Homo sapiens: one gene and its partners. The protein of the gene in region 1 interacts with the protein of each later gene in a pairwise test. Each region holds a gene or a part of one and is shown in the gene's direction. Other genes may lie near its edges.

Region 1 (7,034 bases):
TGTTAGCCAGGATGGTCTCGATCTCCTGACCTCGTGATCCGCCCACCTCGGCCTCCCAGAATGCTGGGATTACAGGAGTGAAAATTTCATAACTTTCGACTATCACTCTCAACCCCTTCTTTGAAGCTCCAGTCTCATATTCCATGTGACTAGCAGGGATCACCTGGGTCCCCCATATGCACCTTAAACTTAGTCCAGTCCAAAGTAAGCTTCGCATTTCCTTTCCCCAGACTTCCAAAACCTATACCACCCCCTTCATTCTGCAACTCAGTTAACAGCATAACTCCCTACCCCAGTCACTTAGGTTGGAAACCTCAGTCATTTGATTCCTTCTTGACCCCTTCACTGTCTCCCTCTCCGCCAGCTTATACAGGGGGCTAGACCTGCAAATTCTGTCTCTGTAATAGCCCTTATGCTCCTATTTTCTCTTCATTTTCATTTTCACTGCCCTAATCGAGGCCCTCATTGAACCTTTCCTTTGGAACTTTACATATATCCTCTACACAATCAGCAGGATTTTCTTGCTGAAACACAGTTGATCATTGCTCTCCTGCTTAAAATCCTTCAAAGGCTGTTCACTTACAGAATAAAATAAAATTACGTAGCATTTTAGCTATGCTGGACAACACGTTGTTCTATTACATACCACTCCTTTCCCTGTGTCTGTGTTTTTTGCTTATGCTCATCTGTTTGGATTTTTTTTCCTCCTGACAGAATTGTACTTAGGCCTCAAAGCCTAATTCAAAAGGTCACTTCCTTCCCTAAGCCTAACCTACCTCCCAATAATATTTAATGGTAATTTCCTCTGTGATTACCCCTATAGAATAACGTAGCAGTTATGTTATTTAAGGGTAACATAAAGGGTATTTAACCCATTATGTTATGCTGTTTGTGTTGTATATGTCTCTGCTCTCAAAGGCTGTGAGCTCTATGAGGACAGGAACTATCTTAATCAATTGTGTATTCCTAGCACCCCATACAAGTGCCTGGAATATAGCTACAATCAATAAATGTTTGTAAATTGAATTGAATTGAAGGGACATTACAACATTGTAGTATAAATCACTTTGTAGCCTGAGATTGATCACTACTGCAAATACTAAAAGTGGAAGAACATATACCTTTACTATTCAGTAGAATAGTTTTATGGTTAAATCAATAGCATCGTGTAACATGTGATGATGTGCGTTTATGCATTTATCCAAATATTTGTAAGTTTAATACTGACCACGATGTATATGGCTATTGAAGAAAACCACACATAATATGTGTGTGAGGTTTGAAACTAGCTCTGTTGCCTAGGGCTGTCTTTGTGCCTTGCCAGAATGTGGACCGTGGCATGATCGGCCTGAATATTTAGCCATCCTCATGATAGCATGTGGAATAACTGGTTTACAGTTCATTCGTTTCATACATACTCTGCCTAGCATGTAAAATTAACTGGAAACTGAGGAATTGGAGCCAAAGTTAGAAAATGAGGAGAGTTCAACTTGAACCATCAGGAAACAGGCTGATTACATGAAGGTCTTTTTGTTTGTTTGTTTTTAACATAATAAATAGAGATGGGGTTTCACCATGTTGCCCAGGCTGGTCTCAAACTTGTGGGCTCAAGCAATCCTCCTGCCTCAGCCTCCCGAAGTGCTGGGATTACAGGCCTGAGCCACCATGCCCATCCTATATTTTTTTTCAGGCAATATCCTTTTGTGCTCAAGAAATTAAGACACACACCCCACCACAAACTACATTTGAAGACTCTGCCAAAAAAATGCCATGTTTTTTCTCATTTTCTTTCATCAGTAATTAATGATACCAAGAACACTTATATGCATGGTTTATAGCAGTTGGCTATGGTCAAAAAAAGTTGGGCTTCCCCTCTGAGACATTTGCAGATATATGTCCTAGGTATACCATCAGTGGCAAATAATGCTTATCTTAAGATCTAATCTCACAGGGCATGCTGGGCTCACGCCTGTAATCCCAGCACTTTGGGAGGCCAAGGCAGGAGGATGGCTTGAGGCCAGGAGTTTAAGACCAACCTGGGCAACATGGCAGGACCCTGTCTCTACAAAAAATAAAAAAAGTTAGCCAGGCATGGTGGCTTACACTTGTGGTCCCAGCTGCGCAGGAGGCTGAGGCAGAAGGATCACTTGAGCACTAGAGGTGGAGGTTGCAGTGAGCTGAGATTGGAGTGCCAGTGGACTCCAGCCTGGGTGACAGAGCAAGACTCTGTCTCAGAAAACAAAAAAAAAAAAAAAAAAAACTAACCGCCCCTTCCCTCTAGAAATATTCTAAAAGAAGGCTTATGATATGAATTTGAGATTCCTAACTATAAAGTAATAGTTATGTGCTTCAAATGATACATAACAATACAGGGACTCAAGGGCAATGTGCCTAGATTCTTAAGAGAATGGAAATCAGTTTAACATATATTGGTAATCTGGGCCGGCGCGGTGGCTCACGCCTGTAATCCCAGCACTTTGGGAGGCCGAGGCGGGCGGATCACGAGGTCAGGAGATCGAGACCATCCCGGCTAACACGGTGAAACCCTGTCTCTACTAAAAATACAAAAAATTAGCTGGGCGTGGTGGCAGGCATCTGTAGTCCCAGCTACTCGGGAGGCTGGGGCAGGAGAATGGCGTGAACTCAGGAGGCGGAGCTTGCAGTGAGCCGAGATCACGCCACTGCACTTCAGCCTGGGCGACAGAGCAAGACTCCATCTCAAAGAAAAAAGAAAAAAAAAAACATATATTGGTAACCTGAACACAGTGATCCCCCTCAGCAGTATTAGAGAGTAGCCTCAGCGTCTCCCTGCTGAAGTTGTCTTATATAAGAATCAAATAAGGCTTTATTTATACTTCTGACAACAAGACTGGAACCCCCTTCTCTTGCTGTAACAGCCAATCCTATCCACTTATGATTCCAATTATAGTGTCATAAGTTAGAGAATCATAGGAATGTAAAGAGAGAAAGCTGTAAGAGCATGGCTTAAGACTCAGAATGTTTTGTTGCTTCTTTAAGGCAAGAACTCCCCTGGAGCAGGAAATTTTCAACCTCCTCCATAAGAACAAGCAGCCAGTGACAGACCCTTTACTGACCCCTGTGGAAAAGGCCTCTCTCCGAGCCATGAGCCTAGAAGAGGTAAGTGTGTCATAGGCCCTTCAGCACACCCAGGCATGCCACGCTTCTCCTAGCATTTGTCCTCTGGCCCAGGTGTCACTGTAAGTCTCATTTGTTGTAGGCAAAGATGCGACGAGCAGAGCTTCAGAGGGCTCGGGCTCTGCAGTCCTACTATGAGGCCAAGGCTCGAAGAGAGAAGAAAATCAAAAGTAAAAAGTAAGGAGGCCCCTGTGAACTGGCCTTGGGTTCCACAGAAGAAAGTCATGTGGTTCATCATGAATTCTTTGGAGAGAACCTTTGATGCAGCAACTAGAGTCATGCAGATGAGGTCCCAAACAGGAGTGACTAGCCTTTTGTTCCCCCCAAACCAACCTCATACAGTTTTGCCAAAAAGATGACTATTCAGTTACTTTCTCTGCCTTCCAAGGCATCACAGAGTGGTTCTGCAGAATCAGCTCTGAATTCCAGAGCTGTTAAGGCCAATAGGGCTTCCTTCCTGCCTTTTTGCCTCTTTGAAACTTGTTCGGCCGGGTGTGGTGGCTATGCTTGTAATCCCAGCACTTTGGGAGGCCGAGGTGGATGGACCACTTGAGCTCAGGAGTTCAAGACCAGCCTGGGCAACATGGCAAAACTGGCTGGGCACGGTGGCTCACACCTGTAATCCCAGCACTTTGGGAGGCTCAGGCAGGTGGATCACTTGAGGTAAGGAATTCAAGACCAGCCTGGCCAACATGGCGAAACCCCATCTCTACTAAAAGTACAAAAATTAGCCAGGCATGGTAATGTGCACCTATAGTCCCAGCTACTTAGGAGGCTGAGGCGGGAGGATCGCTTGAGCCCAGCGGGTGGAGGCTGCAGTGAGCCAAGATCATGTCACTGCACTCCAGCCTGAGTGACAGAGTGAGACCCTGTCTAAAAAAAAAAATGAAACTTGTTCTACCCCTCCCTTGAGTTATAGAGGCAAAGGAGACTCTTTGAGCTGCAGAGGTCCACCCTGAGGACTGTGGGTACCAAGAATCTTGCCAGTCCTGTCAGGTCCCAAACTGACTCCCTATAGCCAACTAGCTCTATGATGCCCATTCCAGCCCCCTGCCTAGGGAACCCATTGGGTAGTATGGGCACTTGTGCCTATGACATCCGTGCTTCAGCTAAATTGCTAAACTCTTCCCTCCTACCCCTACAGGTATCACAAAGTCGTGAAGAAAGGAAAGGCCAAGAAAGCCCTAAAAGAGTTTGAGCAGCTGCGGAAGGTTAATCCAGCTGCAGCACTAGAAGAACTGGAAAAAATTGAAAAGGCCAGAATGATGGTGAGACTACCTCTTGCCCCACCCCCACCCCTTTGAACCAGCTTTCCTTGGAAGGCACTAAAGATGTAAATCTCACTCTGTCCTTTCTTTCTAGGAAAGAATGAGCCTTAAGCACCAAAACAGTGGGAAATGGGCCAAGTCAAAGGCAATTATGGCCAAATATGACCTGGAGGTAAGAGACCCTTGGGGTGAGAGAAGATCTGGAATTGGAGGATGCTAGCAGAAGCAGAGTTGGGGAAGAGCCATGAGGATGGATGGAAAACCAGGAATCTAAAAAGGCATCAGAAAAATCTCTAAGGCAGAAAGGAAAATGACCAGGAACAAGGTGGAAAAGGAGAGATGAAAGGGAAACAGCATTGAAGGCAAGTCCAAAGGGGGAGAGGAGCTTTTTAAAATCTTATTTCACCGTTGATTCCTTGAGGACAAAGAATTTGTCTTCCATTTTATACCATAGCTATTAACCCAGCATTGTATATGCAGTTTAAACAGTAGGTACCAGTAAGAAATACTCACCAAGTCAAATTGAGAGGAGGCAGCTTTATGAAATGGACCAGGAAAGGTGTTATTGCGGTCACTAATGACAGGGCTCTCATGCTGTGACTCTTTCCTCCAGGCTCGCCAAGCTATGCAGGAACAGTTGTCTAAGAACAAAGAACTGACACAGAAACTCCAGGTAGCCTCTGAGAGTGAGGAAGAGGAGGGAGGCACAGAAGATGTGGAAGAACTCCTTGTCCCTGATGTAGTGAATGAAGTGCAGATGAATGCAGATGGGCCGAATCCCTGGATGCTCAGGAGCTGCACCAGTGACACCAAAGAGGCTGCAACCCAGGAGGACCCTGAGCAACTGCCAGAGCTTGAGGCCCATGGAGTTTCTGAAAGTGAGGGAGAAGAAAGACCAGTGGCAGAAGAAGAAATTTTGTTGAGAGAATTTGAGGAAAGGCGATCCCTTAGAAAAAGATCTGAGCTCAGCCAAGATGCTGAGCCAGCAGGCAGTCAAGAAACAAAAGGTGAGCTGTGATCAAATGGAAGAGGGAAATTCCTAGTGCTGTGGACAGACTATGGGAGAAAAAAAAAATGTGTCCACCCACACACAAAACTGCATAGTGATTAGGCGCTGGGGACTTGCAAGAGTGCGTACACTGGATCCCTGAAGAGAAATTAGATTCATAACTATTTTTCTTCGAAGACATTTAATAAGCAGTCATCTGCATGGCCGTGCAACGTGGTTCAGGCACATTTTCTGTTCTTGGGGGCTTACAGCCTTCAGAAACCCATAATAACTAAACCATACTCGAAGTCAGGGTATGAGTTAGCGTTCCTGGTACCTACACACCAGGGAGAAGTACGTATGGTAGAATGGCAAATCTGAAAGTCCATTCACACCTGTAGACACAGATAGGTCAATTTTGAGACATTAGGAAACATTGTCTAGTTGCTGGATTTTTTTGTTTTGTTGGTTAAGTAGGAGTGGCATTTTTAGCACTTCTTAATGCTAGTTGATGTGTGTATACATGGGGTGAGACTTTACGGAATGAATGACTCCACAGGGCCACATGGCAAATTAGAATTGTGACTCCATACTCAGGCTCTATTTGTATGTTATATTTTCTACCTGTTATCTTGAAGAGATCTTATTGACAATGTTAGCACCTGTGAGATTGGTCAGAGAGTTCCCATTCTGGCAATAAACCAGGACACTAAAAAACCTGCCTAGGAAACTAGCTACATTGAGAAATCACTTGGCTATCTGGACAAATTACCAGGTCTGGTTTGGTTTCACATAGGAATGCATTTAGATGATGGCAAAAATCTGGTTTTACACGGCAAAAGAATTATTTTTTTCTACTTTTTTTTGTTTAAGAGACAGGGTTTTGCTCTGTCATCCAGGCTGGAATACAGCAGTGCAATCATACCTTACTGCAGCCTAAGACCTCCCAGGCTCAAGCGATCCTCTTGGCTCAGCCTCCCAACTAGCTGGGACTACATGCACGTGCCACCATGCTGAGCTAAGTTTTTGTAGAGACTGAGGTCTTGCTCTGTTGCCCAGGCTGGTCTTGAATTCCTGGCCTCAAGCTATCCTCTCACCTCAGCCTCCCAAAGTGTTAGGATTACAAGTGTGAGCCACCGCACCCAGCCTCCTTTTTTTTTTCCTTTTTTTTTTTCAGGTTTCCACATACAAAAATTTATTTTAAAAGAGCTATCATTTAGAATATATTATAGGGACCTTTACTTAATAGTTTTGGCTGGATATTTTTGGGATTAATAATTGCAAGTAGTCACTTCTGAGAGAATTTTGGAAAGCAGCACAGCGGGCTGAGATTGTGGGGGTGTACATATATGACCACAGGACCCTAGTGGCTTTCTCTTGAGCCCCCTCAACAACTGGCCATCTAGCTAAATGTGCAGAGCGGCTGACTGTGATATGAAAGAATGAAAGATAGATTTGCATTTCCTTGGACAGTAAATAAATTGAATTTTCTCACACCTTCCAAGAGTGTCCTAAAATACTGGAAAGCCACGGACCCCAGTGAAAATGAGCAAGGAAACCTGATTCTTGAGAAATAAACGTACATGTGTCCAAAGGCCAGATCTAAGGAGCTACAATGGCTT
Region 2 (7,000 bases), on another chromosome or scaffold:
CTGCACTCCAGCTTGGGTGACAAAGTGAGACCTTGTCTCTAAAACCAAACCAAACCAAACCAAACAAAATAATATAACAACAAAAAGAAACTAACAGGAATGGTGAGGTGCCCAGGGACTAGCAACACATGAAACCATCACCACCTCTAGGCCTGGAAGGGCAGGTGAAGGAAGCACTGTTTCTGCAGCTAGTGAGAGCTGGACCCGGGATAGAGGGCCCCCAACAGCTCAGCTGTGGCTTATAACTGTGTCTAGAGAAACCAGCCAGCTGGCACCATGGCTCAGAAAAGAGGAAGCCAATGGACTAGATAGTCCAACCCCTCATTCCCCCAACCTTCTGCTCTCCTACCATTGGCCAAACCCCAACCAGAAGCCAGACCGCAAAGAAACCTGGGTGACGCAACCCTCAGAGGCCAGCCCCCTTTTCTGAGACAGCACAGATGAGGGGGGACATAAGGGCACATGATGGATTTGGGGGTGGGGTACAAATGGAGAAGAATCAGCAGATGGAATGAGCTCCTGGTGGTCCATGGCTCAGGATGGGGAAATGTAGGGGAATGAGGCCCGAGCAATATTAATTGCTTTTGCTCTTAGAGATGAGCTTTTATGACAGATACAAGCTGACTTTGAGCCATCAACAATGAGCAAGTTTCCCCCAAAAACTTCCTAGAAGCCAGACAATGGTGTCTGGTTCTCAGCTGAGAATCGGGCCTAAGCTTCAATATGCCAAGTACCCTGATTTCTCTTTTCCTTCCTATTTCTGAAACCAGGCTCTTAAGTAATTGAGAAAGTCACTCAAGATGGGAAAGTTTATTTTGGACTCAGATGATAATCTTTTCTCAGCATTTGTGTTTCCTTTCTGAAGCCTTTTGGGGTCACTGGCCTGGATCTCATGGAATCCTCCCTAGAGGGGCTGTTGACTGAGCTTGACCTGGTTGGCAGAGAGGATCAAATTCAGCCATGTATGGGCCTGGGCCTTCTAGATGGCCCTCTTCTAAGTGGTGGTGACCCAAGGCTCCTCTTGTCATTGGGTGTAACAACCACAGGAATCTAGGAACTCTTTCTTCTGTGTCTGCTCTGGCTTCCTTGCATCTACTAATTTCTAGCAGCCACATTTTATCCAGGCTTCTTGGCTTTTGTGCAAGAGAAGGTGACTTTGCATTTCCTGTCTAGCCACCTGCCATAGTGGAAAGAACCCTAGACATGGGGTTAGGGGCCCAATTTGAACCCCAACAATTTTTACATACTATCTCTGTGACCTAACCAGACTCCATGTGCACTTCAAACTCTTTCCAAGACAGACATCCAAAGAGGCAATGTTTATTCACCCAGGATGCTTAATAGAATGATAATAACAACATTGTGCATGTTTTTCCAGCACTCTGCTTTTAACTGTCTCATGACAGTCTCATTACAGGTGAGAACACTGAAACACAGGGAAGGGAAGGAACTTGTTCAGGTCAGGGCTGAGTACCTTTGAATCCAGAATGTCTTGTTCCAAATTCAGTGCACTTTCCCTATACTAGGCTGTGTCTTGTCCAGTGAGTCCAGCTAGAAGGGGCTAGGATAAAGGTTATTGTGATGGCCAAAGCTTTGATACTGTGACCCAGAATGCTGTACACCCTTGCACTGGATCACACCTGATCAGCCAATGATAATGATTTCCATATGGGTGTCTGTTTTGTCTTTCAGTCATGAGGCAGTGAAATCCATGTTTCATACCCAGATGAGGTGGGTCAGTCCTTTCAAGCATCCCTGCTCCTCTGACCCATCTCCCTCACTTACCTGGTTTGCTGGGGCCACCCATTCCCGAGACTTCTTGGCTGCCATCTGTCCATAACGTCCTTCTGCATCCCAGTGTCTCATCTTTTTAATGCATTTAAATTAACCATTTTTTCCTTACCCACATATCACCTGCCTTGCCTTTGCTTTATTTTGCCTCCTTTCTTCCTCCCTTTCATGCCTCACTTCCACTGCTCTTCCAACCTTGAAGCATGAACCCTTGTAGTCCACATCGTCTTAGCAAAAGCCTATCTTGTCTCCCTAAACCCTGCTTACCATGAAATGGGGACTGTGACTGACCTACTAAAGGACTGTCTGTTTATAAGCCCCAACTTCTCACCCAGACTGGGCTCCAAAAAATAGCATCTATAACTGATATTTTTAATAAATATTTATTCCTAGTATTCCGCTTACTGCTTCTGACCAACTATGAATTAGTAGTTTAGGTTAAATTTTACTTTTCTTAATGACAACCAAATGGCCCCAGATGGGTCTTAGGGTGGGGTTGACAGCTCTTGAAATAGTCTTTGGATTAAGAACAAAATGCTGTGTGAGAGTTTGGGCTTTGGGAATGCTGGGGTAGAAGTGGTTGGTGCACTTGAGTCTGTGCTGGTGTGCACTGCACGTGAATTTGGATGATTCACATCATCTCTTGGACTTGGGTTCCACATCTGTAGAGAAAGGTCAAGAGGAGAGTGCTCTAGGGACCTTCCTAGTTCTAAGTCTCTGCAGCTCTGGGCTCTGTCCCTAACCTCTGTGAGAAATACTTAAATAGGCTGCCTACTTGTGGCTCAATTAGCTGAACTATGGAATTGCAGATTGTTTGAGGTAGAAGGGGTCTGGGGTCCAGAGTGGGGATGAAGCTTGTCCAAGAAAGCTGGTTGGAGGGAGAGCCAGGGCTAAAACCCTCATCTCCTGCCTCCTGCAGTGCTTATTTCAGGCTGGTCTCCATTCCCCTCCCCCAATCTCCAGTTTCAAGTAAGGTAAAATCAGGCATACATATATGCATCTTTTCATATTTAAGTGACATTAAGTTAATTTGGTTTTGAAAAATTTCTAATACCATTGAAATAATCAGACACCCTGAGACCGTGCAAGAATTGGCACAATCATGATGGGAAGTAAAATTACTGGAAATTCCAGCCCAATTGGCCACTGATTCACTGTTGCATTAGAATATGTCACTATGGTGGGCTGCCTCTGTAAAAGGGACTCGTGGGGGCAGAATTGGTTACTTACCCAACAGAGTTAAACACCAGAGATCCACACTCTATCCTGGCCCAGGAGTTTCTCACACAGAATTATTAAGGACATTAGTAGAGTCCTAAAAATCAAGGGCTTTGATGCATCTTAATTCCCATGCATTGAAGACCCAGGAAGCAGCCTGAAAGCAACCAGGCAAGGCTACTATGTTGAGGACAATTGTGAATGGTATGAAGTACCATTCATGATGGTATGAAGTTCCAATCCTGGCTCTGTCCCGAAAGTGTTGTGGGACCTATCCCTCTTGTGTCACTATCCTCATTTGTGAAATGAGTGTCCCTGCAGCTCAGACATAGGATTCTAAGCAGAACTGTGAGCAGAATCACCCGGCCTTCCTCTCCTACTGGCCATTCATCACTATAGTAACCGCTGCTGCTGAAAATTGGGGTAAGGAACAAAGGAAAGGAGGGACAAATGGTGAGCAGGCACTTCAGTTTTGCAGGCTCCACAGGAGTTGTTTTTATACATATTATCACATTAATAGGCATGTCAGTGTATCTCACTTTGGGAGAAGGATTTTTATCCATAAGTGGTCACCTCAGATGCCTGGATATGAACGTCACTACCATTCAGCAGTTGCTCCCTTGACTGTCACCTCAGACCACAGGGAAGGGGCTGCCTTTGACTGGGACTCTTCTCAGGTGCTGGAGTCTTGCCCTTGCTTTTGCATGCTGTCCAACTGAGCCTTTCTGGAAGGTAAAAGAAGTGACCACGGATCTCTGTGCAGATGCTCTCCCCAGCCCTCTGCATCCTGCCACTTCCTCTCTGGATGATGGCTTCCTACTAGGCAGGGAGGTCCCAGGATTCTGGGGAGATACAGGAGCATGGTTTAGGACCCAGCTTGCAGGGCCCACCACTTGTTTTCTGTAGCTGTCTGGCCTTGTGGTGGAGGATGCATGGCTGAGAGGTCCACGGACTGACCTCCACCTGTTTGGCTCAGCTGGATGTCAGTTCTGCAGTGGGTTTTTACCTTCAACATCTTCAGTACCTATCACATTAGGTAAGGTGGGTAGTGCTGTAGCTAATTGAGGGTCAGGTCTAGGCTGGAAGGGAACTGAAATGCCATCTGCCCTTGCTAACTACCTTCAACCAGTAAGCCACATCTCCCAATAAACACCAAAGTGAACAATGCAGTAAGCTAACAGAGCCAGCCTTTGTTTATTTGCCTTCAGTGATCTCCAGTGGGCTAAGTCTCCTTAGGTAATTTGGCCTGAACCATTGGACTGAAGGTTAAGAGGTGACTTCAAGTTAGACACAGAATGGGCCAAGGTTGTGGGTAACCGAATGTGTATGTTTCTGAGAGAGTAGTCCCCAAACTAACCAGAAAATATTTTTAGGTTTTTTCTTGTTTGGAGTTTTTGCCTTATTATTTCTCCCTTCCTTTGTTACAGACAATCAGTAGCTAAAAAGTAAAAGGAGGCTTACGGGCATGGACGTTCTGTCTGGTTTTATGACCAAGCCCAGCTCTCTACTAGGAGTCTATTTGAGCTGATTCCACAGTAGTTAACTGAATGGAATGGATCAGACGGTTCTAAGGAATAGAGTAGAATTACCCAGAAAATCATCCTTTAGGTCACATTTCTCCTTTTGTGGGGTCAATGGGAGTTTCTGAGTGTCAGTGAAAGTCATTGTCTTTGAGACCCAACTCCATGAAGCCTTGGAGAGCACGGATCCCATTCCAGTAGGCCTGGATTCGATTCACCTTTTCCTTTCACCCTGCTTCAGAATTGAGCTCCGGGCCCTAGGCAAGATCTCAGAAGGAGAGGAGCTGACTGTGTCCTATATTGACTTCCTCAACGTTAGTGAAGAACGCAAGAGGCAGCTGAAGAAGCAGTACTACTTTGACTGCACATGTGAACACTGCCAGAAAAAACTGAAGGATGACCTCTTCCTGGGGGTGAAAGACAACCCCAAGGTACACACAGCCCTGCTGCTGAGGTGTTTGTGTCTGTCTTCTCCGGGAGCCAGTCACAGGTGGTTTCACAGCTAATCCGTGTGCCCTGCCCATGAGCTTCCTAGGGAGCAACTGTCACCCTGGGGAGGAGGCAGGGCATGAGAGCAGAGCACCGCAGGTAGGTCCCAGCTAGGTCCTGGCACTGCCACTTGCCAGGTGTTTGAGTTTGGGGAAGTCACCCAGTTTTCTCAACAGTAAAATAGGAATGATGGCCCCACTGCAAGAGGTTGTTATAAAGATTAAAGGAGATGACGTGTGTAAAAGGAGTGGCATACGGAGTAGACACTGGAAATTTTGGTTCCTCCTCTTACTCCTTTATGAGTTGAGTGATGTTGAGAATTTAAGGTGTTCAAATCAGATGGGCAAAGAGATTTATCATCTGGTTATCAAAAAGATATTCCTAGTCCCATGGGGATGGGCAGTGTGGAGACAGGGCTAGGTTTAGATTGGTCAACATCCTGAACTCCTGGGTAGCTGTTGCCAGTTGATGGTGAGTCTGTTGAGCAGCAGAGGAAGGCTTGCTGAGGGGAGGTCAGGAACCCAGCTGAGCTGGGAGAGAGAGCTGAGCCGCCAGGTGTCAGAGTAGCCAGTTAAAGCAACAGAGCAGAAATGAGAGTGAAGTATTTAATCACTTACTGCAATGGTGTAAGCAAGAAGCTAAAACCGAAGAAAGCACTGACTCCTCTTGTCCATTTCCTCCAGTGAAGCTGTGCTCAGGGGGAGGATGAGGGGGATCAGCACAGGCATGGAGGCGTCTCACATGACATTCTCTTTTATAAGGACGCTAGTCCTATTGGGTTAGGAGCCCACTCTACTCCAGTATGATCTCACCTTAACTAATTACATCTGCAATGACCCTATTGCCAAGTAAGATTTCATTTTGAGGTAGCTTCTGGGGCTAGACTTCAACATATGAATTTTGGGAGGATACAATTTAACCCCTAACACTGTGTGTGCTACCATTTATGAACATTAAAAGGCACACACACACACACACACATGCACACCCATGTGCATGCAAGCATACTCGGTTTCCATACAGACAGAAGTAGGAGGACCAGCGATGCCTGGGGTGAAGAGATTGACAGTCACCCCTCCCAGGCAGAGACAAAGCAGTTGGGGTCCAAGGATTTATGTTTTCTATAGGAACAACCTCTTTTCAGAGAATCAAAGGTGTGTATTCTAGGACATGTATATTGGATGCATGTGAGAGGCACTGAGCACTGCATCATGGGCGCTACAGAAAAGAATTTGTTATTGCACTCACCCTCACCCCGACCTTTCAGAACCTGCGGATAACATGTCTTATCTGTGAGCCAGTCAGCCTTCCCTCCTGGAGACTGGCCCTGAGTATTTGTTTCATAACTTGCTTCCACACTGCTTAATTTATTTATTTTTATTAAGAGGCCAGACCCTCTTTTCTCTATTCTAAAATAAAACAACCATGCGATCATTTCTTTAGATTTTTTGATGTTTACCTGGCAGTTTCAATAGTTCAGTAGGCTATGTGTGGCCTTTAGTTCCCATCCCTTCACTTTAGATATGCTGTTACCAGCTGGTGACAATACACACACATCTCCAGTATGAATTGCAGAGTTGGCATTTCTCTTGATATAAAAGATTGATGATTTCTGCTTGAACCTACCTGAATTCAAGGCAAAAGCTTTCTATTATATTTTATATCAAATTGAGTTTCTCTATCAAAACAACTCAAAAATAACTCACCTATACTAACTGAGCAGAAAAAAATTGAGTATATCTTTTTAAAAGCAAATGCTTCTTCAGGCATTAAAAAAAGGCCATCATAATGTAGTAGGAAGAATACTGGAAGAAGAATTATGAGGCCTGTGTACTAGTACTGGCTATGACTCTAAACATCTGAGCTTGGCCAAGTCTCTTCCTTCTGGGCCTCAGTTTCCTCATCTGTAAAATGGGGAGTTGGACTAACTTATTAACCATTTCCTCAAGCTGGACTATCTACAATGTCATCACAATCATTTC
Region 3 (7,034 bases), on another chromosome or scaffold:
CCCACCTGTTGCTGCAGCATTTGAATTTGACTGTGGCGTGAGGCTGCGGTGCACATTCCTGTGCATGTTTTTACCAGCATGTGTTTTCCATCTCTCTGAGAATCTTCTTGTGGTCGTTGACTTTTCATACGTAACGTCTTGGGTGAAGTGTCCAGGTCTTTCACCCATTTTTTCTAAAATGGATTTTTTTTTTTTTTTTTGACAGGGTCTTGCTCTGTGGCCCAGGCTGGAGCACAGTGGTGCCATCACGGCTCACTGCAGCCTCCATTTCCTGGGCTCAAGTGATCCTCTTGCCTCAGCCTCCCAAGTAGCTGGGACCACAGAAGCGTGCCACCACACCCACCTAATTTCCAGAATTTTTTGTAGAGACAAGGGTCTCCCTTTGTTATCCAGGCTGGTCTCGAACTTCTGAGCTCAAGCAGTCCTCCCGTTTCAGCCTCCCAAAGTGCTAGGATTACAGGCATGAGCCACTGCACCTGGCCCGTGTGCCTTTATAGTGTTGATTATGCCTTCAGCACTGATACTATGCAGCCATCTTTAAATTCTTCCTGTTGGATTTATTGTGTCTTTATTTTCACTTCCCTGATTTGTATATTTCAATCCTGGGTTACTGTGTAAATCCCCAAAAAGTTTTCATTGCTTTTGCTTTTCTCTTATCCAGTCAAATACTTCTACCAACATCGGAGTAATTGAACATATTTTCTTCTCTCACCTAACCCACGGTAGCTGCTTTCTCTCCTCCCATCTCCTGTGTGACGTTTCTGGCGGGCTCTGCTGCTCCTTTATGCCTGAGCTCTTTTCTTTCCCACATCGTGGCTGCTTTCTGTGTCTCCTGCCCCCCTGCCCTAGAAGACGGGAGTCGGGGAGGTGGGGCTTCGATCCCCTCCTTGTCCCCCTTACAGCTCCTGTCTGCTTGGCCCTCATCCAACGTCTGCCTCAGGCCATTTGCTAATAGATGGGGCCTAATCTCGAGGATGGGTCCCTGAGGAGCGGCGTTGCCGGGGTCTTCTACCTCCACCACCCCTCCCCCGTTCAGGATTGTCACCATGACCCCTTGGTGTGCACAGTGCAGACTTAGTGTGGAGCTGAGGCAGGGCCTGGACTGAAACACTGTGTCTGATTTCCTTGCCTAGTGGGCATCCCCACCATCAGATGGTGCGGGGCAGAGGGGGACTACAACGTCATGGTGATGGAGCTGCTGGGGCCAAGCCTGGAGGACCTCTTCAACTTCTGCTCCAGGAAATTCAGCCTCAAAACCGTCCTGCTGCTTGCTGACCAAATGGTAAGGACTGTTTCCTGACAGTTGGCACACACTTGCTGTCTGATAGAATCAGCCACTCGCTTGTGCTGTTCTTGCCATTATTATGGCCATTAATTCACAGAGGAAATGGAAATTTGCTGAGCCTCAGCCTTGAGGCTGCAGTGGCTCAGCTCACTGGCTTCTCGAGGCTCCGGTGGCTCCGCTCACTGGCTTCTCGAGGCTCCGGCGGCCCAGCTCACTGGCTTCTCGAGGCTCCGGCGGCCCAGCTCACTGGCTTCTCGAGGCTCCGGCGGCCCAGCTCACTGGCTTCTGGAGGCTCCGACGGCTCAGCTCACTGGCTTCTCGAGGCTCCGGCGGCCCAGCTCACTGGCTTCTCGAGGCTCCGGCGGCTCAGCTCACTGGCTTCTCGAGGCTCCGACGGCTCAGCTCACTGGCTTCTCGAGGCTCCGGCGGCTCAGCTGACTGGCTTCTGGAGGCTCCGGCGGCTCAGCTCACTGGCTTGTCGAGGCTCCGATGGCTCAGCTCACTGGCTTCTGGAGGCCCCGGCGGCTCAGCTGACTGGCTTCTCGAGGCCCCCGGCGGCTCAGCACACTGGCTTCTCGAGGCCCCGGCGGCTCAGCTGACTGGCTTCTCGAGGCCCCGGCGGCTCAGCTGACTGGCTTCTCGAGGCTCCGGTGGCTCACCGCACTGGCTTCTCGAGGCTCCGGCGGCTCAGCTCACTGGCTTCTCGAGGCTCCGGCGGCTCAGCTCACTGGCGTCTCGAGGCTCCGGCGGCTCAGCTGACTGGCTTCTGGAGGCTCCGGCGGCTCAGCTCACTGGCTTCTCGAGGCTCCGGCGGCTCAGCTCACTGGCTTCTCGAGGCTCCGGCGGCTCAGCTCACTGGCGTCTCGAGGCTCCGGCGGCTCAGCTGACTGGCTTCTGGAGGCTCCGGCGGCTCAGCTCACTGGCTTCTCGAGGCTCCGGCGGCTCAGCGCACTGGCTTCTCCAGGCTCCGGCGGCTCAGCTGACTGGCTTCTCGAGGCTCCGGCGGCTCAGCTGACTGGCTTCTCGAGGCCCCGGCGGCTCAGCTGACTGGCTTCTCGAGGCCCCGGCGGCTCAGCGCACTGGCTTCTCGAGGCCCCGGCGGCTCAGCTGACTGGCTTCTCGAGGCTCCGGCGGCTCAGCGCACTGCACTGGCTTCTCGAGGCTCCGGCGGCTCAGCGCACTGCACTGGCTTCTCGAGGCTCCGGCGGCTCAGCTCACTGGCTTCACAAGGCTCCGGCGGCTCAGCTCACTGGCTTCTCGAGGCTCCGGCGGCTCAGCTCACTGGCTTCTCGAGGCTCCGACGGCTCAGCTCACTGGCGTCTCGAGGCTCCGGCGGCTCAGCTCACTGGCTTCACGAGGCTCCGGCGGCTCAGCTGACTGGCTTCTCGAGGCTCCGGCGGCTCAGCTGACTGGCTTCTCGAGGCTCCGGCGGCTCAGCTCACTGGCTTCTGGAGGCTCCGGCGGCTCAGCTCACTGGCTTCTCGAGGCTCCGGCGGCTCAGCTCACTGGCTTCTCGAGGCTCCGGCGGCTCAGCTCACTGGCTTCACGAGGCTCCGGCGGCTCAGCTGACTGGCTTCTCGAGGCTCCGGCGGCTCAGCTCACTGGCTTCTCGAGGCTCCGGCGGCTCAGCTCACTGGCTTCTCGAGGCTCCGGCGGCTCAGTTCACTGGCTTCTCGAGGCTTCTGGAGGCTTCGGTGGCTCAGCTCACTGGCTTCTCGAGGCTCTGGTGGCTCAGCTCACTGGCTTGGAGGCCACCTTCTCGGTACCAGCATAGCACGTTTCCATTCAGTGGGTTCCTCAGTCTCTCAGGAACACACGTGATTCCTAAGCACCTCCGTGCAGTTTCTCTGCTAATCCTGGTGTGTAGTCTGTGCAGAGAACAGTGCTGGGAGAGACCGATGTCTAGTGGCGGGTTGTCCCCTCTCTGTCGCCTCACCTCTCTGTTTTGTGGGAGCTGAAGGCAAAGCGCCTAGGCCTGTGGAGGGTGGAGTGTGGAGGGTTGCTGCAGGCACCTGGGGGAACAATTTGGTCAGTTCGGCATCCCCCTCGCTAATTGTTAAACTACCCTGCTGTGGCTGAGGGGCAGGAACAATGCAGCCACTGATGTAGTGTCCCACAGTTGAGCGGTCCCTCCCTGAGACTGCCCTGGGGTGCCATCTCGCGCCCTTGCTCTGCTCACAGATCAGTCGCATCGAATACATTCATTCAAAGAACTTCATCCACCGGGATGTGAAGCCAGACAACTTCCTCATGGGCCTGGGGAAGAAGGGCAACCTGGTGTACATCATCGACTTCGGGCTGGCCAAGAAGTACCGGGATGCACGCACCCACCAGCACATCCCCTATCGTGAGAACAAGAACCTCACGGGGACGGCGCGGTACGCCTCCATCAACACGCACCTTGGAATTGGTGAGCCCCTGGGCATGGGGTCACTGACCTGGGGTGCCTTTGGGCGCGTCCATGCCTCAGCCCAGGGAGAGGCCAGCCTCTCGGGGAGCTGGGGCTGCAAGCGTGTCATCAGACCTTTGCGGCAGACAGGCTGGCTCGTGACTGCCAGGTGTATGGGGGCAGGCGGATGCTGGGACATTTCTGAGTCACCTGTGATGTGTTTGGGAATTTCCTTAGTATGCATGAGGGGCAGCTCTGGGTGAGAGTGATCTGGGCATGTGTGTCCGAGGTTCGTCTCCACTGGAAGTGCCAGCTGGAGTGATCTGGGCATGTGTGTCTGAGGCTAGTCTCCACTGGAACGGCCAGCCGGGTCTTTTGCTTTGACGTGAGCACGCAAGTGCCGTTCTTCACGCCTTTCCCTTTTCTTTTCAGAACAATCCCGAAGAGATGACTTGGAGTCTCTGGGCTACGTGCTAATGTACTTCAACCTGGGCTCTCTCCCCTGGCAGGGGCTGAAGGCTGCCACCAAGAGACAGAAATACGAAAGGATTAGCGAGAAGAAAATGTCCACCCCCATCGAAGTGTTGTGTAAAGGCTACCCTTGTAAGTCTCTGGAGGCCTCTTCTCAGCGGAGCTGCTCACAGGGGTTGCATATGTGTCGGGTGTGCCGAGACGGCTCAGTCTGGGTTTTGTCAGAAGAGTTGCTCACCTTCCAAAGGGGTGGTGGCAGGAAAGCGGGGCGCTTTTGTGTATGGAGGTAACAGCCTGCCCTCCTGTTCATCTTGACTTACTTGCCAAGTGCCCATCAGCGTGGGGAGTACTTGGAGGCCCTGGAGAGATGGCAGGCAAGGCAGGCCCGAGCCTCAGGGCCCCAAGTGGCTGGAAAGGGATGGACAGGCAGTGGTGGGGCCTCTCTCTGCAGTGGCTGCCCTCTCTGGCCCCCTCCAGGAGCTCGGGAGATTTCCTTTGCATTTGTAGGATTGCCCCAGGATACACACCTCAAATGAAACTAAATTGTGCTTTATGACTTCTTTTTTTTTTTTAAGACACAGTCTCACTCTGTCGCCAAGGCTAGAGTGCAGTGGCGTGATCTCGGCTCACTGCAAGCTCCGCCTCCCGGGTTCATACCATTCTCCTGCGTCAGCCTCCCCGGTAGCTGGGACTACAGGCGCCCGCCACCACGCTCTAGAACTTTTTTTTTTTTTTTTTCAGTAGAGATGGGGTTTCACTGTGTTAGCCAGGATGGTCTTGATCTCCTGACCTCGTGATCCGCCCTCCTCAGCCTCCTAGAGTGCTGGGGTGACAGGCGTGAGCCGCCGCACCCGGCCGTGACTTGAATACTTTTCGATGCTTTCTCAAGGCTTCAGGTCTTAGAAATCTGACAGGTGTTTTGCATCTGTCCTTCTCCCCTTGAGTGTGCAGCAGCAGGAGGTAGACAGCGACGTTGGCAGAGACACCTTGAGTCGCAGTTGGGTTTCATGAGTTAGCTTTGAGTTTCTTGTTTTGTAGCCGAATTTGCCACATACCTGAATTTCTGCCGTTCCTTGCGTTTTGACGACAAGCCTGACTACTCGTACCTGCGGCAGCTTTTCCGGAATCTGTTCCATCGCCAGGGCTTCTCCTATGACTACGTGTTCGACTGGAACATGCTCAAATTTGTAAGTCGCACTGCCAGCACGTTCGCTGAGTGTGGTGTGCGGGGGATGGCTTGTCAGTGAGAGGCCGGCGGCCGTCTTGTTGAGGGGCTGTACCATATAGGGAGTGTCTCTGGTTGTGAAGGGCAAGTGTGTAGTGGGCAGGACCTGGACTGAGTGGGTGTCTGCCTGCCAGAAAGGGGTGCCAAGAAGTAAGACGCCATTAGGGAACGCAGAGGGGTCCATGGAATTCCTGGGTGTGGACAGCAGGAGGCCCCTTCCCTCCCTGTCACCAAGCGGAGCTAGGGCCCAGAGCATGCCCTGGGGGCAGAGGGTGGGGGCTGGGGGTGCGCATTCCCATTCGCTGTGCCACATGGTCGTGGTGCCCACGAGATGAGTGGGGTTGGGGCCTGGTGAGGTGCTACCCGTCTAGCCTGACTGACCCTGTCATGAGCTGATTTTCCCTGTGGCTTTCTTGATGCGGTGTGAGTATGCAGTGGAGCCTCTAAAACAGGCAGCCCAGCCCTGGGTCCATGTCTGAGCTGAATTACTTTTCAGACACCGCTGTCAGAAATGAAGCTCCTGTGGAACTGTTGTGTTCCTTCATTAAAAACTTACTGTTTTGTTGTCAGTTTTAAATAGAATTTGGAGCTTTTCCAGGCAGCAGTCTGATGGAGGAGCAGAACTGCCTCTTGGGAGGGTACAAAAACGGCAGCCTTGTCCAGTAGTCGTGCAGGGGCCAGGGAGGGGCGGGGTCTCCAGATGCTGGGAGGGGTGCACTCTGTTCATCTTGACTTACTTGCCAAGTGCCCATCAGCGTGGGGAGTACTTGGAGGCCCCGGAGAGATGGCAGGCGAGGCAGGCCCGAGCCTCGGGGCCCAGGTGCCGGGAGGGGTGCACTCGGCAGGGCAGATCAGTCCCTCTGCCGGGGCTGTGCTGCCTCGGGAGGAATCAGAGCGACCCTCCTGCGGCATTAGAGTCACCCGGCCCTCAGAGCAGGCTAGGCCAGCGTTTTCCGTAAATGGCAGCATGAGGAGTCTGGGCGGTGCTGGCCGCACGGTGCTGCAGCCGCAGGTGTGTCGGTCTGTGTGTTGCCTGGTGAACGTGGCTGTGTCCAATGAGCTGTACTTGCAGGAAGAAGTGGCACCTGGGTTTGGCCCCGGGGCTGTAGTTTGCAGGCCCCTGCCGCACAGCATTGGCAGTTAGAATCTGCTTTTTCATAGGTTGCTGTCTCGGCTTAAAATCTGACCTCCCCACCCCCGTGCATCTGGATAGTGCAGCACAGATCCGGCTGCCGGCTGCTGGCCACGCCACCACACCTGCACAGGCTGTTGGAGGCTGCAGGGTCCGGACCCTGAGTGTACTCCTCGTCCGACCAAACGCTCTCATCCCCACCCCGCTTTCCTCCCCAGCTGTCACCATTTGGGGCCTGTCTTTGGCCTCCGATGGTTCCTGTCCCTCTCCTCTTTCTGCACGTGTTAGTGAGCATGTTCACAGAGCAGCAGGGGGTAGCTGCTGCCCATTTGGAAGTTTAAGGAAGTTCTGAGCCCACAGGGAGATGCCATGGCGAGTGGGGTTTTTTCGATTGTTGGGGGAGCTGAGAGGCCTGGCTCTGACCCCTTGTGGGGATGATGCTGTCATCCCATGAGGAGAAACGTGCAGCCTGTGGGGGGCTTTGCAGGCAGTCTCGTCCCAGTGCCCTTTGGTAGGTATTTTCTCACGTGGC
Region 4 (7,034 bases), on another chromosome or scaffold:
AATTACTGAGATCCAAGAAAACTGCCAAGAGTGGAGTGTTTGGGTTAGCAGAGCCAAAGAGAACCAAATCCCATATAGATGAGACTCATCATATAGTTATTTGCAAGTGGGAGTTGACAGATGAAATCATTAGGCGATAATACAGGGGTGAGTGCTCTTCTCATGCTACAAAGATTTAAGTTGCCTTGACATCAGTAAATGTCCTGGGTAAACATGAAAGAAAAAAGTCTTTTCCCAAATGGAGCCTTCCTCTTGTCCCTCTCTGTGTCACTATAGTAAAGGCTGTAAATGAAGGTTGTTGTGATGAGTATCACTGTCCCTTTAAGAAGACCAAAATTGAGCTTATTTTAATAATGAAGATGGAAGAAGGAGAACAGTAGAAGTGCCTGGCTTTTGTTTATGAAAATGGTCTTTTTACTTTTGCTTTGCCATTCAGTCTCTTCTTTGAAATTCAATATTTGTGTAACTGGATCAGTAAAAGAATGCATTTGGGAGAGTATCATTATTTGGTTTCCCCAAGTAGAAAATCAGGCAGTATGATGAGTTTGTTTTGTTTTGTTTAAAAAAGACTCTGACCAGGTTTTAGAATTATTCCTAAAATAAAGTAGGATGCATTTGCTTTAATCAATATTGATTGATTAAAAGCAAGAATCCCCAGCTTCAAATGTTTACTGCTTTTAGTAGGTTAATATAGTTTTTCTTAGTCAAGTAGCATTTTTACATGCCTATTTTATGTATACAATAGAATAGAAAGGATGAAATAGTATTTATTGCTTTGTTAGTTTATTATGTTTTTACCCCAAGAGATTCAAATTCCATTTCTACTGGAGTATCCCTTTAGTGATCGTAGGAAATATATAGCCCTGACCAAGTACTGTTTAGAGCAGGCTGCCTGTATAGAGCAGGCTGCCTGTATAGAGCAGGCTGTTTCTTTCAAGTGGCTACAGAAGAGCTAAAATTATATGACACCTCAGCAGGGAGAATCTGGCTTCAGACTACTCACCATCATCCACTTTTTTGCAGGATGATCAGGATGGTGCTTTCACAAAATGGAGAGTGGAGAATTCATGGGGTGAAGACCATGGCCACAAAGGTGAGCTCAGTTTGGTAATACTAACTCCAGGTGACTGGGCCTGCTCTACTCTGCCTGTCTGGGTGTCAAGCTGCTCTAGTGTGGAGGATTTCTCAGTAATTGGCTCCACTGACTAGATTATTCTACAGAAAAATCTGAGGATCTGATTTGCCCCCAGGATTCTCCTGACCATTATGGCATGCCTGAACTCCCAGGTTGGCTCTGAGACTGCTATGTGCTGCATTTGTTGCAAACTGTGTTGACCCTCCCCTCTTTGTAGACCGCTTGGCTAGTGAGGAGGTTGAGTGCCCTTGCCAGGACACTTGCTATATGGCATTTGATGCATTTTCTTTTTCTTTTTTTTTTCTTTTTTTTTTTTTTTGGACAGAGTCTTGCTCTGTCGCCCAGGCTGGAGTGCAGTGACGTAATCTTGGCTCACTGCAAGCTCCACCTCCCGGGTTCACGCCATTCTCCTGCCTCAGCCTCTGGAGTAGCTGGGGCTGCAGGCACCCGCCACCACTCCCAGCTGATTTTGTATTTTTAGTAGAGACGGGGTTTCACCGTGTTAGCCAGGATGGTCTCGATTTCCTGACCTCGTGATCCGCCCGCCTCGGCCTCCCAAAGTGCTAGGATTACAGGTGTGAGCCACTGCGCCCAGCCTTGATGTATTTTCATCTACTACATCAGTACTCTAGAAAGTCAGAAGCCTTCTGTATGGGAGAATGGGACTGGCAAGAAGCTTTCTTTAGGCATTTATTAGAGACTCCTTAGAAGTTGTCATACCTAAAGTGGAAATGAACACTTTGCTTACCACTTAGCACTTCTTTATACTGGCAAATCAAAACCTAGGGAGAAGTCATAACTTACACTAAGTAGACTAAACAAAATAACACAGTAATATATGAGTTGTAGAAAAATTTTAAAATACAGATAAAAAGTCTCTAATAATCCAACCACCTAGAGATCACTGTTGATTAACAGTTTAGGGTATATTATTGTAAAATTTTGAGACCACATTTTTAAAGACTGTCTTTAGTAATAGCTTTTGAAAGAGATTTTACGCTTTAATTTTTAGGGTTCCAAACCAAAAGTGGCAATCACCATGGCATATGTGTACCTGTGAGCATGTAGATTCATGTGTGCTGGGGGCATTTTATAGCCAGTTCTTTCTCAGAGTCCCTTTTTCTTTTAGCCAATGGATTCTGGCTAGGAAAAACATTAACCGCACCTTAGTAGACTAGTTAGAAGACTGAGAAGAACCAGGTAGGGAAGCCAGAGAAGTGACATTCAGAGATATTTGGAAACAAACTTGAGCATACATTTTACCCAACAGGAATTAGCCAGGCATTTTATTTTTAAAAAAAGAAAGAAAAAGAAATTTTAGCAACTCTTTGTTGTTGCCCCTCTCTGTGTTTAGAATCGTGATTTTCCAGCTATGTTCCTCACAGCCGTAGGATTTCCAAGGGTAAAAGGTAGAGGAGGGGGTGTGGAGGTTTGGATATGAGCATATGGGACTTCCATAGCTCCTATTTGAAAAATTGCTGTTTTAGAAGAGCCTGTTAAGCTGAGTTTTGAACTTGACAGCATTTTAGTATGCTGATTGGGCAGCACAGGCTTGTATGTGATAGCCAAAATCTGAAGACCATTTATTTGTCATTCGAGGGCTTTTCATCTCTCTATGAGAATAATCACTGGTGGATTTTGGCTGACTGTCCCTGGAATATGCTGTGATACTCAGCAGCCCAGTGTTTATATGTAAACAAATACAAGTGCTGTTACTGCATTTCTCTTCATCATCAGATAGTTACATGTCTACCTTCTGTGATTTCTATAATTGTTCTGTGATTTTAGGGGTGCCTATTAAGTTAACTACTACGAATTAGAATACTTTTTAAAATTGGTGGTTTCTTGTAAGGTGAATTTTATTTTAAGACAAATACACATTAGGGTCAAGTAGAGAAGGGTTTAAACCTCAGCAAAGTTAGCAGAGTAAAAATAACTCACAGTTTAGTTATATCTGTAAGTTGGTGATAGTTAAGAGATGGATACTTGTCTTAAAATTTGAAAGATTTGATTATTTCTAGCAAACATAAGATACTGAGTTAAAGTTTTCCTGTTGCTTCCAATGAACCCCCTGCAGCTTCTGTTTCATTTCTGGTCTAATTTGGTTCCTATAATTGGATTTGTTATCATATAGGTTAGCACCTAGGAAAAGAACTAAAGTTATATTTGTTTAGATGAGCCTGGATCCGTCAGCTTGCTGCGATATTTTTCCATCTGTAATAGTCAGTGAGTTTGAAGATAGTAGTGTTATCTGGTTAAGAGAGGATAAACACTTGTAAAATCAGGAAAATGTGTTTTATGTAGTGTGAGTTAATGTCTTTATTATTTTGAACCTAAATACTTAAAGATAATTTTAGGTCACTTTACTGTATATAATTTTTCCATTTAGCTTTACCTCTTTACTTTTACTCAATAAAAGTTTTGCTTTTGCTAACTTACTCATTTCATTATTATGCTTAGAGAACTGTAAAATATGGGATCTTGCTATCCCTGTAACTCTCCTGTAATCCTTCTTAGTGAAATCTGCAGCTATCTAGTAAAGATTAACTTTTTTGTTGTTCTCAAATAACTGAAATGCCTGTGACTATACACAGCAAAGCATTTCAGTAGAGAGCCAAAAGATAAGAAATAGAACTGAAGTGGGGGTAGGGAGTCGTTCATTCAAGCCAAAATAAATTATTCTCATGTGTTTCTTGGTAATGTTCTTTCTAACTTAACAGGAAGGAAGGAAAGAAAACATGATCTAATTTAATTGGCACACTTGGCCTGACCTCAGGAGAGCGCATAGTATGTTATTATGTTGGCAATATGTGTTTATCCCAGCAGGGCCTTCTTGTCTGTCATCCTAGTGGACATTGGCTGGCAGGTCTGAGGTAGGACCTCTGTTTATGCTCTCTTGGGAGATATGACAACCTTAAGAAGCATTGCTGGGATTTTGTTTCTGTAGATAACATTGTTAACAGTTTGTTGCTATTCTCTTTGGGATTTCTGACTGTTAAGATTGATGTTTCTGAAAAAGCAGTGTTGATAATACATGCTGGAGATAAACAGAGCAAAGATACCTGGGCAAGCTGCCTTTCCCCTTTGCCCAGCCCTGGCTTTGGTTCTCCCCATTGGTCATGTTCATGGCTCTCCTGCCCAGAAACTCTTTTGTAACACATAACCTGACTATTCCAAAAATGGACAGAAGGTTTCTTCTGAGCAGGAGGACATAAAAGGAGAAATCAGTTTTTGCTTTACTGTACCAGTTGGATTACTTCAAGTTGATGAATTCTAGTATTCATAGTCAGTTGTACTGAAAATTGGATGCATATCTAACATGTAATACCAACCTGGGTTTCTTTTCTCCCCTGCTTCTTAAAATACTTGACTATCCATTTTGTACCTTGTTAATGGATCATATCAGAAATGAATTTCACAATTAGGTGAGGGAACAGACTTCGGGATTTGATATATTATCTTTCATTTTGAAAAGTTGATAAAAATATTTTATAAAATATTTAAGAATTTAAAATCAAGGAAGTCACCTTTGATTCCTCTCGTTATTAGTCAGAAATTCATCTGAGAAGAGCCTAATCTCTAAGCCAAAGTGACCTGCAGATCCCCTAGCTAGTAAATGATAGAGCCAGAATTATAACCCAGATGGCCTGACACCAGAGCCAGTTTTCTTAACCACTAAACTGTGCTTTCTCTCACCTTCCCTGTTCTAGTAGCATGTCGTCCACTCAAGAAATAACAGGTCAGTTCATGGTCATTGGTGACCAGAAAGAGTGGATGAAGGGATATAAAACTGTATGAAGGACCTGGAGATGTTATGTAAATGTCTGACATTGGGAGAAAAGGCCCCTAGAGCATCATTTGTGGCTGGGAATCTGAGTAAAGAGTGGAGATTGGGGCATTCTGTGAGGGTTTGTCACATGTTAGCACATTGTGACTTAGGCAAGTCAGAAACTATGCAGCCACCCAAAATTTCCCTGAATTTTGTCCATGCTGCTTTATAATAAGGTTATTTAGTTGTTTTTTTGTTTTGTTTTGTTTTTGCTTTTTTGAGACGGAGTCTTGCTCTGTTGCCCAGGCTGGAGTGCGGTGGCGCGATCTCAGCTCACTGCAAGCTTCGCCTCCCAGGTTCACGCCATTCTCCTGCCTCAGCCTCCCAAGTAGCTGGGACTACAGGTGCTCCCCACCACGCCTGGCTAATTTTTTGTATTTTTTAGTAGAGACAGAGTTTCACTGTGTTAGCCAGGATGGTCTCGATCTCCTGACCTTGTGATCCTCCCACCTCGGCCTCCCAAAGTGCTGGGTTACAGGCGTGAGCCACCGTGCCCGGCCAAGGTTATTTAGTTCTTAACTTTTTATCTTGGACAATTTTAAACATATATAAAGTAAACAGGATTGTATTAAAGAACCCTGCATATGCCTGTCACCCACCTTCAGTAGTTATCAATATTCTGTCATGCAAATAATAGTGTATTTGATAGTCAATAAATTAAATTCCTAGATGGTCTTTCTAATGAACCAGTCTTACTATGAAACTTTACTTCTTTGTGATTGGTTCACTTAGTTATGAGATTGTATTCCATTTCTAGAGCCTGACACAGCAGAACTCTAAATGTGGAATTATCATAATATAGTTCTTAATGCTTATTTGGTCCAGTTTCTCAATATGATAAGTAACAACTTTTAAGTGAAGATATGGAGGATATTTTCTAATTCTGCAATGTTCACTGAAGGAAAATACTTACCTTTTAAAAATTTTGTCTCTCCTGGTTTTCATTTTGAACCAAGATGAGTTTTCCATTTTTCACATTGCTTTTGTTCCTTTCAGATACATGAACATTTGAAATTGTTTTTAACCCACATTTTTAATCTTTTCTTACAAGTGAGCCTCTCTGTTCCTGATTTCTTTCATTTTAGTAAAATTTTCAGACTTCCTTCTAGAAAGGAGCCTCTAAATGGTTTCAGTTAAAGATACTTTGGCATGTTAGAGATTAGAAAGAAACATGTTATCAATTCAGACTATATGTAGATTTCTGCTGCTTCCTAAAAACCAACATTATGACCTTTAATTGTCTCACCAGCCCAACTGCCACAAGTGATTTTGGAGATGGTATATTCAAAGCTAGGCACAAAAATCAACATATTCTTCATAAAATGCTATGTTGTAGAACCAGGTGAGTTGTGGAGAGACAGTTACTAATAATTAATTCTTGATTTTAGATGCTGGGCAGTAATTTAACTCATTGTAGTGTCACATTTCTATGTCAATAACATGGACAATTTGTTTCTTTATGAGCTCCTACAGTTTGTATGTAGCCATCAAATGAAATAATGTATGCAGGCATTTTTCAAACTGTATATTGTTATATAAATCTAAGGAGTTATGAACAGCCCATATTTCTGTTGGAGGTACTCAGGACATAAAGCTACAGGGCATCTTGCTTCGTGAGAATTCAAAGTTCACTAATGTATTTGTATTTATTTCTCCTCATGACATCAGAGTAGAGTAACTCAGGATGTGAACATGGGTGATTATACCCAGGTTTTATGTGAAGAAACTAAAACTTACTGACAGTTGTGTCTTGTTTGGGTTGCACAGAATCAGAGATAGAATTGGAATTCAAATCTCTTAATTTGACACAGACAGCTTCCCTAAAATTCCCTATGTATTACTTACAAAAGACAATCAGTTATTTGCAGGTCTGTTTGAGGTTCAGTTCTGGATCTCTAGTACAATAATGGAAACTAGGCAATGTTGGGCCAGACTTGCTGAAACAAGAGTGAATTGTAGAACTTAAAAGCACAGGTTTCTGATTTCCGAGAAAGGGGCAAGTTGCAAATTTGTTTTGTCACCTCAGAGGGTTTCATGTCTCTCCAGGCTTGGGAAAAGTGCTGCTACCAT

What was found.
Region 2: the proteins of UTP14A (region 1) and SMYD1 interact in binary tests that used the Homo sapiens proteins (3 or more experiments, as listed by UniProt).
Region 3: the proteins of UTP14A (region 1) and CSNK1D interact in binary tests that used the Homo sapiens proteins (3 or more experiments, as listed by UniProt).
Region 4: the proteins of UTP14A (region 1) and BLMH interact in binary tests that used the Homo sapiens proteins (3 or more experiments, as listed by UniProt).

What each region holds. Positions count from the first base shown.
Region 1 is NC_000023.11:129,916,157-129,923,190, forward strand, and holds part of UTP14A (U3 small nucleolar RNA-associated protein 14 homolog A), read left to right. Parts: intron 1-3,018; coding exon 3,019-3,138; intron 3,139-3,238; coding exon 3,239-3,333; intron 3,334-4,300; coding exon 4,301-4,424; intron 4,425-4,518; coding exon 4,519-4,596; intron 4,597-4,646; exon of another isoform or gene 4,647-4,786; intron 4,787-5,037; coding exon 5,038-5,431; intron 5,432-7,034. UniProt on the Homo sapiens protein: May be required for ribosome biogenesis.
Region 2 is NC_000002.12:88,091,825-88,098,824, forward strand, and holds part of SMYD1 (histone-lysine N-methyltransferase SMYD1), read left to right. Parts: intron 1-1,692; coding exon 1,693-1,731; intron 1,732-4,770; coding exon 4,771-4,960; intron 4,961-7,000. UniProt on the Homo sapiens protein: Methylates histone H3 at 'Lys-4' (H3K4me), seems able to perform both mono-, di-, and trimethylation. Acts as a transcriptional repressor. Essential for cardiomyocyte differentiation and cardiac morphogenesis.
Region 3 is NC_000017.11:82,249,677-82,256,710, reverse strand, and holds part of CSNK1D (casein kinase I isoform delta), read left to right. Parts: intron 1-1,133; coding exon 1,134-1,282; intron 1,283-3,466; coding exon 3,467-3,695; intron 3,696-4,106; coding exon 4,107-4,277; intron 4,278-5,183; coding exon 5,184-5,332; intron 5,333-6,531; exon of another isoform or gene 6,532-7,013; intron 7,014-7,034. UniProt on the Homo sapiens protein: Essential serine/threonine-protein kinase that regulates diverse cellular growth and survival processes including Wnt signaling, DNA repair and circadian rhythms. It can phosphorylate a large number of proteins.
Region 4 is NC_000017.11:30,260,944-30,267,977, reverse strand, and holds part of BLMH (bleomycin hydrolase), read left to right. Parts: intron 1-1,023; coding exon 1,024-1,093; intron 1,094-7,034. UniProt on the Homo sapiens protein: The normal physiological role of BLM hydrolase is unknown, but it catalyzes the inactivation of the antitumor drug BLM (a glycopeptide) by hydrolyzing the carboxamide bond of its B-aminoalaninamide moiety thus protecting normal and malignant cells from BLM toxicity.